2 separate regions of the Homo sapiens genome follow, and region 1 is linked to region 2. The links come from fine-mapping of genetic effects on gene expression. Tissue or cell type: thyroid. Region 2 holds a variant in brackets; the other region holds the start of a gene. All regions are shown on one strand. Distances are from middle to middle.

The links. PIP is the estimated chance that this variant, and not a neighbour inherited with it, causes the effect.
Region 1: ZNF124 starts here. The variant in region 2 is fine-mapped to the expression of ZNF124 in thyroid (GTEx, PIP above 0.99). The same link has a PIP of 0.9 or more in tibial artery, tibial nerve and visceral fat.

The regions. Positions count from the first base shown.
Region 1 is chr1:247,169,148-247,174,297 of GRCh38, reverse strand. It overlaps ZNF124 (zinc finger protein 124), which reads left to right and starts at 2,278. Exons shown (of 4, transcript NM_001297568.2): 1 at 2,278-2,450. The coding sequence starts at 2,421.
Region 2 is chr1:247,123,938-247,129,087 of GRCh38, reverse strand. It overlaps a transcript of ZNF124 not described here. Among named protein-coding and RNA genes, the nearest start is that of LINC02897, 14 kb to the right of the region's middle. The variant A/TTA (reference allele first, on the strand shown) is at 3,111.

The DNA of each region.
Region 1 (5,150 bases), 45 kb before region 2:
TGAAAATCATAAATAGCCTACAAACAACAAAAAGGGATGAATAGGATTTGCGTTCATGTGGAGTGCGTCATCTGTGCTTTTAAATTTATCCTATGAAAAGAAATAAAAAATATGTAATATCGAACATTGGTTTCCTAAATTAGCAAATCGACCATTTCCTCAAGTTATTCCACGTTCTTCCAAGATGTGTCAGAAGCATTCTCTGGAGGCAGTTGTTCCAAATGGTGAAGAGTACTAGATGGATCCCAATCTCACAGGATTCTTGCTTCTATTGCAGAAGAGTTACTTTCCAGGACTTCAAAGGTTTAGAGAAGCTGCTTGATTCGTGTGGCTTGCAGAGGTGCATGGGCTTTGGAGTCACGAAAAGTTAATCCTGGTCCCAGCCCAGCCTCTTAGTAGCTGTGAGGCTTTGCACAACTTCCTTGTCTTGGAAAGTTATATAAACCTCATCTGCAAGAAAAGGCATGATACTGATTGCAAAAATGGCAGCAACTCTTCATCCCTTCCTGTATTTATGCCCTTTGTGATGTGCTTTTATAGCTGCTTTCATTGAGAGGCAGAATCTGTTTCCCAAACCTTGAATCTCACTGGCCTTATTTGCTCTGGCAGTAGAAAGCTGTGAATATGACCATGTGCCAGTTTGGGGCCGAGGCACAAAAGCTCTTGAATGCTTCTGCTTTTTATTTCACAACCCTGTCATCTCCATAATAACAAGTCCATGTTAGCCTGCTAGAGGATGAGATACTATAGGGAGGAAAACCAAAGTGCCACAGTTGACAGGCAGCTCACCCTCAGAAGCAGCATTGCCTAGTCAACCAGCAGCTGACCACACGTGCCTGAAAGGGCCCAGCAGAGACCAGAAGAATGGCTCACTTGAGCCCAGCCTAGAAGGTGGACCAGCTCAATCTAATACGTTTTGGGGAATTTTACTGTGAAGCAATAGGTAATACGTACACCTAGTGCAGACAGGATGCCAGGATTCAATGACATGTTGATTGCAATTTACCAGGCAAACACAAGGCACCCTGTATGTACTGATTTCCTTTTCCCTTTATGTAAAGTTGGATTTCTGGTTAGACGGTGTTGAGCCATACAGAAGTGCACGTAGACATGCATGTGATTTGTGCTTAAACTCACACACTTAAATTCCACACCACAGGAGGAAACAGAAAACCACAGCCTGACCATTAGGGCCAAAGCCAAATTGCAAAATGAGAAGTTTGTCTTTAATGTATTCCCTCTACATCTAAAGTCCTGAGGTTAAGGCTGTGGACAAATCTGAAGACATGGGTTTTCTTCTCCTGGGGCCCCTCATCTTTTTTTCACTGTCTTATCTATAGAAGAGGCTGGGCCCCTGGCAAGAGCAGGTGGGAAATAGTAGACTCCCTCTAGATACTTCTTTATTGCAGCCCACTTCTCTCTCTGGGCACTGTCTCTGCCACCCTTGGGCCTGAGGAGAGATGTTAGCAGAAGGAGGGCATTCCCTCACCTCTAGCAGAAAAGAGGGGTTCGGGCCCTTCACTCCCTGAGGTCAGGGGAACCAGAGCCCTCAAAACTGCACTTCAGTGTGACAGTCATTGCCCACAGGGGTCTACTTAGCACCTAGAATGTGGCTGGTCTGAATCGGTACATGCTGGAAGTTTAAAACGCAGAGTGACTTTGAAAGATTTAGTACCAAAAAACAGAACAACAAAAAATACTTCATTAATATTATATTTATCATATATTTAAATTATAATATTTTGTATATATTGAGTTAAATAAAGTATTGCAATCAATTTTACCTGTTTATTCCTCGTTTCTGTTGCTACTAGAAATTTTAAAATGACACCTGTGGCTCACATGTGATTTCTGTGGAAATCGCAGCCTTGGAGGATTGCTTCCCTTTTCAAAACTCGGGCTCCTCAGACTGCTTCCTCAGAAGACCAGAGGCCATGAAGGTTAATAAGTCTGAAATTTTAAAAGAATTATTATTATATTGTTTCCTATTTTAAATATCATATATATTATTCACAAATGAATGTAACATTGTATACAAGGTTAAGTGTATATAAATGAATGTCCCCTAGGCAAGGCTGGGTCCCAACCCAGAGAGGAAACCCTCTTGGAGAAGAGCTGTAGCCAGAACGCTGCCTCATTCAGACACGCGCGGGAGCTGTCACCTGTCACTAAGAGTCTGAGGGGGCGGGGCCTGAGGCCCTACCCAATCAGGGGCACCGGGGCGGGGACTGCCTAATCCGGCGCTCCGCTAGAAAACCCGAGGCGGCTTCCGGGTGTGCCCGGCCTTTGTCTCTCGTGCCCGCACGTGCGTGTCTCGGTCAGTAGCCCTGCGCTTCTCCTTCACTCTCGGCGGTTCAGGAGGCTCTGCCGCAGCCGGGGCCCTCCTGTGACCTGCATGTACTGGGGGATTCGCAGGGAGGATGTCGGGACACCCCGGAAGCTGGGAAATGGTGAGTTGCGCCGCCGGGGGTCTGGAGAAGGGAAGGGGCTGTGGCGGCCCCGGGCCCCGGGCTCCCAGCGGTCGGCTCCCGAGGGCGGACCCGGGTCCCTGCTGGCGCGGCGCGGCGCGGCCCTCGGTCCTTTCTGGCGCCCGGCAGAGCTGGGCGGGCAGCGGCACCCCGGGCTCCGGTCCCGTCTCTGCACCGCGACTTCCGTCCTGCCCGAAGCAGCTTCCCTCCCCGGCCCGCGCCCGCAGCCCCGCGGCTCCTCGGGATCCTGCAGTGAGACCCGAGGCGCCTCAGGGGAGAGGCCCAGCGCGGTGTGCGGGCTCGCGCCTGCGAGGAGCTGTGGCCACTGGCGTTTCCAGTCCCTCCTTAATCCTGTTAAAAATTAAACTGAGGTTTAATTAAAGCGTTACAGAGTTTGAGCAAACAGCGATTCATGAGTAGGGGAGCACCCAGCCACGGTTTTTGGTTTGTGGGCCACCGGACGGTCTTGATGGAAAGGCTTCTGTAAAGTGTGTAAGGAAACAAACCAAATTTATTTATTTTTTATTTTAATGATCGGGTGGGGCGGGGGGGGGGTCTCCCTGTGTTGCCCAGGCTGGTCTTGAACTTCTGGTCTCAACCTCCCGAAGTGCTGGGATTACCCCGCCCAGCCCAAAGCAACCCCAATTTAATAACTGATTGGTTATAATTATGTAGTTCTGTTATTCGGATTATTTAGGTGGATGGTTCCTGGTTATGTAATCAGAGGTAAATTGCTGATTTGGGGTTAAGTTTTCTTTCCCTTCAAGTTAATTACAAGAAAGGCATGAAGTACCTTTAGGTTTTCTTGGTGAGGAACTCAGGGCACCATCATCACTTAAGGGAGGAGACCACCCCTCATATTGTCTTATGCCCAATTTCTGCCTCCAAAGAAAGAAGAAGTAAAAACTAAAAGGCAGAAATGAAATCCACAGGCAGACAGCCCGGCGCCGCGTCCTGGGCCTGGTTACAGATTGACCCTTGACCTGACCGGTTGTGTTATCTATAGATTCCAGACATTGTATGGAAAAGCACTGTGAAAATCCCTGTCCTGTTCTGTTCCGTTCTGATTGCCGGTGCATGCAGCCCCCAGTTATGTACCCCCTGCTTGGTCAATCGATCACGACCCTCTCACGTGGACCCCCTTAGAGTTGTAAGCCCTTAAAAGGGACAGGAATTGCTCACTTGGGGAGCTGGGTTTTTGGAGACGTGAGTCTTGCCAAAGCTTCCGGCAGAATGAAGCCCTTCCTTCTTTAACTCGGTGTCTGAGGGGTTTTGTCTGCAGCTTGCCCTGCTACAACTTCAGTCTAATTTCTTCCTATTTAATTATTTCCACAAGGGTACTGGTTTCCCCTGCATTTCCCAAATGTAAGGCAAGCAGGGTCTCAAATCCATGACCGTATTCCCCAGCCTAACTTCTAGAACTTGCAGTAAAATTCTAAATTTCCAGTTTCTTCCTCATACTCTCAAACTCCAACTTCACCTCTCCAATTTACAACATTATTAATTATTTGTTCTTTATTGTGCATTTGAACCAGATGCAGTAATGTAATTGTTTATCATGTTTTCACTGAGCAGTGAGGAGCTGTTTCTGAACATTCCTTGTGAAAACAGAGAATAATCACCTGATCTAGTCCACTATAAAAAATTCTTTGTACCTCTCCTCCTTTTGTCTTCCCTAGGCACACTCACAAACGTCTTTGGATGGAGGTTTCCCTTTGGAACCTTCACGTGGTGTTGTGTCCTCAGCCACCCTCCTGTCTTTTCTGGGTCCTGGGTTCAAAACTGTTTGAGGATGACCTAATGTGCCCACACTGGCCCTGTCTCTTGGAGTGTCATAAATAGTGAATGTCAGCTGTTGGGTCCTCTTCTCCCAGAAGACAAGGTGAGGTTTAGGGGTGGAGCCTCTCAGAGGAGCAGCTGGATGGCATGAATCCCCTGGGACCGAGAGGAGTCTCCTGGGATACTCTTCTATACTCTTCCTCTAAAAAGCTAATCCACTAGGACTTAGATTTTTTTTTCTTCTCTTACCCCCGTTATCACTCCTTAGAGACAAAATGCTGGTCAGGCAGTCGGATACTGGTATTGAGGGAAGAAAGAATTTCTGCCCTCTGGATTGTCTCATGCTTGTGAAGGGAGAACAGCTATTCCAAAGTACAAGGAAACCCCGCCCCGCAGTGAGGCAGGAACCTGAAAAGCAAAATGCATTTGGGGCACAGTGGGGACACGGCACAGGTTTCTGGGGGAGGGTGGGCATTGAGTACTTCCCTGAGCAGGATGGGGTGGGAGGACACAGTGGGGACACTGGGAGAGACACTGGTGTCATCCAATCCAATGCTGGTATTTTGAGGGAGAGACAGAAATGATTCCTGCCCTCTGGATTCTTTCACACTTGTGAAGGGAGAAAAACAACCTTAAAGAACAAGAAAATTTCTTCCCAGGAAGATGACACAAAAACCTGCCAAGCAAACTGCACCTTAGGCACACAGTGGGCCACAGTGCATTGCGCTGGGAGGTTGGTCCTTGAGTACGTGGTCTCTCCAATGAGGAGACCGGGGACCAGGGAATCTCCTGCTTGAGAGATGGTCTTACTTGACATGTGAGTCAAACATATCTGTGTTCCAGTTAGCGCTGCTCCTCCCTGGGCTGTCCTCTTGCAAAGCTTTGTTCATTTATTGGTGCCTT
Region 2 (5,150 bases):
TGAATCCTCCCACCCCATCCTGCTGGGGGAAGTACTCAATGTCCACCCTCCCTCTCATCTCCTGATCCTCCCACCCCATCCTGCTCGGGGAAGTACTCAATGTCCACCCTCCCTCTCATCTCCTGAATCCTCCCACCCCATCCTGCTGGGGGAAGTACTCAATGTCCACCCTCCCTCTCATCTCCTGAATCCTCCCACCCCATCCTGCTGGGGGAAGTACTCAATGCCCACCCTCCCCCAGAAAACTGCGCCGTGTCCCCACTGTGCCCCAAATGCATTTTGCTTTTCAGGTTCCTGCCTCACTGCGGGGCGGGGTTTCCTTGTACTTTGGAATAGCTGTTCTCCCTTCACAAGCATGAGACAATCCAGAGGGCAGAAATTCTTTCTTCCCTCAATACCAGTATCCGACTGCCTGACCAGCATTTTGTCTCTAAGGAGTGATAACGGGGGTAAGAGAAAAAAAAAAATCTAAGTCCTAGTGGATTAGCTTTTTAGAGGAAGAGTATAGAAGAGTATCCCAGGAGACTCCTCTCGGTCCCAGGGGATTCATGCCATCCAGCTGCTCCTCTGAGAGGCTCCACCCCTAAACCTCACCTTGTCTTCTGGGAGAAGAGGACCCAACAGCTGACATTCACTATTTATGACACTCCAAGAGACAGGGCCAGTGTGGGCACATTAGGTCATCCTCAAACAGTTTTGAACCCAGGACCCAGAAAAGACAGGAGGGTGGCTGAGGACACAACACCACGTGAAGGTTCCAAAGGGAAACCTCCATCCAAAGACGTTTGTGAGTGTGCCTAGGGAAGACAAAAGGAGGAGAGGTACAAAGAATTTTTTATAGTGGACTAGATCAGGTGATTATTCTCTGTTTTCACAAGGAATGTTCAGAAACAGCTCCTCACTGCTCAGTGAAAACATGATAAACAATTACAATACTGCATCTGGTTCAAATGCACAATAAAGAACAAATAATAATGTTGTAAATTGGAAAGGGGAAGTTGGAGTTTGAGAGTACGAGGAAGAAACTGGAAATTCAGAATTTTACTGCAAGTTCTAGAAGAGTTAGGCTGGGGAATACGGTCATGGATTTGAGACCCTGCTTGCCTTACATTTGGAAAATGCAGGGGAAACCAGTACCCTTGTGGAAATAATTAAATAGGAAGAAATTAGACTGAAGTTGTAGCAGGACAAGCTGCAGACAAAACCCCTCAGACACCGAGTTAAAGAAGGAAGGGCTTCATTCTGCCGGAAGCTTTGGCAAGACTCACGTCTCCAAAAAACCGAGCTCCCCAAGTGAGCAATTCCTGTCTCTTTTAAGGGCTTACAGCTCTAAGGGGGTCCGCGTGAGAGGGTCGTGATCGATTGAGCAAGCAGGGGGTACGTGACTGGGGGCTGCATGCACCGGCAATCAGAACGGAACAGAACAGGACAGGGATTTTCACAGTGCTTTTCCATACAATGTCTGGAATCTATAGATAACACAACCGGTCAGGTCAAGGGTCAATCTGTAACCAGGCCCAGGACGCGGCGCCGGGCTGTCTGCCTGTGGATTTCATTTCTGCCTTTTAGTTTTTACTTCTTCTTTCTTTGGAGGCAGAAATTGGGCATAAGACAATATGAGGGGTGGTCTCCTCCCTTAAGTGATGATGGTGCCCTGAGTTCCTCACCAAGAAAACCTAAAGGTACTTCATGCCTTTCTTGTAATTAACTTGAAGGGAAAGAAAACTTAACCCCAAATCAGCAATTTACCTCTGATTACATAACCAGGAACCATCCACCTAAATAATCCGAATAACAGAACTACATAATTATAACCAATCAGTTATTAAATTGGGGTTGCTTTGGGCTGGGCGGGGTAATCCCAGCACTTCGGGAGGTTGAGACCAGAAGTTCAAGACCAGCCTGGGCAACACAGGGAGACCCCCCCCCCGCCCCACCCGATCATTAAAATAAAAAATAAATAAATTTGGTTTGTTTCCTTACACACTTTACAGAAGCCTTTCCATCAAGACCGTCCGGTGGCCCACAAACCAAAAACCGTGGCTGGGTGCTCCCCTACTCATGAATCGCTGTTTGCTCAAACTCTGTAACGCTTTAATTAAACCTCAGTTTAATTTTTAACAGGATTAAGGAGGGACTGGAAACGCCAGTGGCCACAGCTCCTCGCAGGCGCGAGCCCGCACACCGCGCTGGGCCTCTCCCCTGAGGCGCCTCGGGTCTCACTGCAGGATCCCGAGGAGCCGCGGGGCTGCGGGCGCGGGCCGGGGAGGGAAGCTGCTTCGGGCAGGACGGAAGTCGCGGTGCAGAGACGGGACCGGAGCCCGGGGTGCCGCTGCCCGCCCAGCTCTGCCGGGCGCCAGAAAGGACCGAGGGCCGCGCCGCGCCGCGCCAGCAGGGACCCGGGTCCGCCCTCGGGAGCCGACCGCTGGGAGCCCGGGGCCCGGGGCCGCCACAGCCCCTTCCCTTCTCCAGACCCCCGGCGGCGCAACTCACCATTTCCCAGCTTCCGGGGTGTCCCGACATCCTCCCTGCGAATCCCCCAGTACATGCAGGTCACAGGAGGGCCCCGGCTGCGGCAGAGCCTCCTGAACCGCCGAGAGTGAAGGAGAAGCGCAGGGCTACTGACCGAGACACGCACGTGCGGGCACGAGAGACAAAGGCCGGGCACACCCGGAAGCCGCCTCGGGTTTTCTAGCGGAGCGCCGGATTAGGCAGTCCCCGCCCCGGTGCCCCTGATTGGGTAGGGCCTCAGGCCCCGCCCCCTCAGACTCTTAGTGACAGGTGACAGCTCCCGCGCGTGTCTGAATGAGGCAGCGTTCTGGCTACAGCTCTTCTCCAAGAGGGTTTCCTCTCTGGGTTGGGACCCAGCCTTGCCTAGGGGACATTCATTTATATACACTTAACCTTGTATACAATGTTACATTCATTTGTGAATAATATATATGATATTTAAAATAGGGTACAATATAATAATAATTTTTGTATCTTTAGTAGAGACGGGTTTCACCATGTTGGTCAGGCTGGTCTCGAACTTCTGACCTCATGATCCGCCCACCTCAGCCTCCCAAAGTGCTGGAATTATAGGTGTGAGCCACTGTGCCTGGACTATT[A/TTA]CATTTTCTAGAATTTTATATGAATACAATTGTACAATATTTACTTTTTTTCCCCAGTGAAAATAGCTTTTATTCAAATGTCCTTACTTTTATCTGGATTATTTTACTTGGACTAATTAATATGAGATCCAGCCACATTGCTGCATGTAGTTTAAATGGGTGAATTCTATGCTGTTTGAATCCTCTCTCAATAAAGTTGTTACCAAAAACTCAATGAGATACCACTGCATTCCCAGTAGGATGACTAAAATGAAATAAATAAACAGATGGCTGGGTGCGGTGGCGCCTTTAATCGGCGCCGGCGCCGATCACGAGGTCAGGAGTTGGAGACCAGCCTGGCGAATGTGGTGAAACCCCGTCTCTACTAAAAATGCAAAATTTAGCCGGGTGTGATGGCAGACGCCTGTAATCCCAGCTACTCAGGATGCTGAGGCAGGAGAATCCCTTGAAACGGGAAGGCAGAGGTTGCAGTCAGTGGAGATCTCCAGCCTGGGCGAAAGAGGAAACTCTGCCTCAAAAAAAAAAAAAAAAAAAAAAAAAAAAAAAAGACAAAAACAGGTGTCGGTGAAGATACGGAGAAATTGGAACCCTCACACCCTGCTGGTGGGATTGCATAATGGCGCAGCCACTCTGGAAAACAGTCTGGCAACCCCTCTAAAATTCAAACATAGAGGTACCATTTGACCCAAAAACTCCACCCCCAGGTACAGATACACAAGAGAAATTAAAACATCCACAAAAAAGCTAGTACACAAATGTTCACAGCAGCAGCATTCGTAACAGCCAATGTGTGAAAAAGTCTCCAGTGTCCGTCAGAGGATAAAATGTGGTCTATCCTTGCAATGAAATCTTATTCACCCATAAGAAGGAATGAAGGCCGGGCGCTGTGGCTCATGCCTGTAATCCCAGCACTTTGGGAGGCGTAGGCAGGTGGATCACTTGAGCCCAGGAGTTGCCAGCCTGGGAAACATGATGAGAGCTCGTCTGTACTAAAAATGCAAAAAAATAAAAAAATAGCCGGGCATGGCGGTGTGTGCCTGTAGTCCCAGCTATTGGGAGGCTGAGGTGGGAGGATCACCTGAGCCTGGGGAGGTCGAGGATGCAGTAAGCCATGATCACACCACTGCACTGCAGCCTGGGTGACAGAGCGAGACCCTGTCTCTAAAACAAAAGGAATGAAATGCTGATACATACTACAACATGAATGAACCTTGAAAGTATTTGGCTAAGTAAAAGAAGCCACATACACACACACACAAACCCCACATATTGCGTGATTTTATTTTTATATGAAATGTCCAGAATTGGCAAATAGAGACAGAAAGTAGATTAGTAGATTAGACAGAAAGTTGCATAGGCTGGGGGGAAAGGAGTTGGCTGCTACAGGATGCAGAATTTCTTTATGGGGTGATCATCTCAAATTGACTGTGATGATGGTTGGGCAACTCTGTGGATGTACTAAAAGCCACAGAATCAGAGCCGGGCGTGGTGGCTCACGCCTGTAATCCCAGCACTTTGGGAAGCCGCGGCGGGTAGATCACAAGGTCAGGAGTTTAAGACCATCCTGGCCAACATGGTGAAACGCTGTCTCTACTAAAAATACAAAATTAGCCACATGTGGTGGCCTGCACCTGTAATCCCAGCTACGCAGGAGACTTAGGCAGGAGAATCGCTTGAACCTGGGAGGTGGAGGTTGCAGTGAGCCAAGATCACACCTTTGCACTCCAGCCTGGGCGACAGAGCGAGACTCTGTCTCAAAAAAAAAAAAAGCCACAAAATCATTCATTTTAAATGGCTAAATTTTACGTGTGTGATCCCAATAAAGCTATTAACAAAAAATGGCTCACGTAGGCCGGGCGCAGTGGCTCACGCCTGTAATCCCAGCACTTTGGGAGGCCGAGGCGGGCGGATCATGAGGTCAGGAGATCAAGACCATCCTGGCTAACACGGTGAAACCCCGTCTCTACTAAAAATACAAAAAATTAGCCGGGCGTGGTGGCGGGTGCCTGTAGTCCCAGCTAAAAGCACATCACAAAGGGC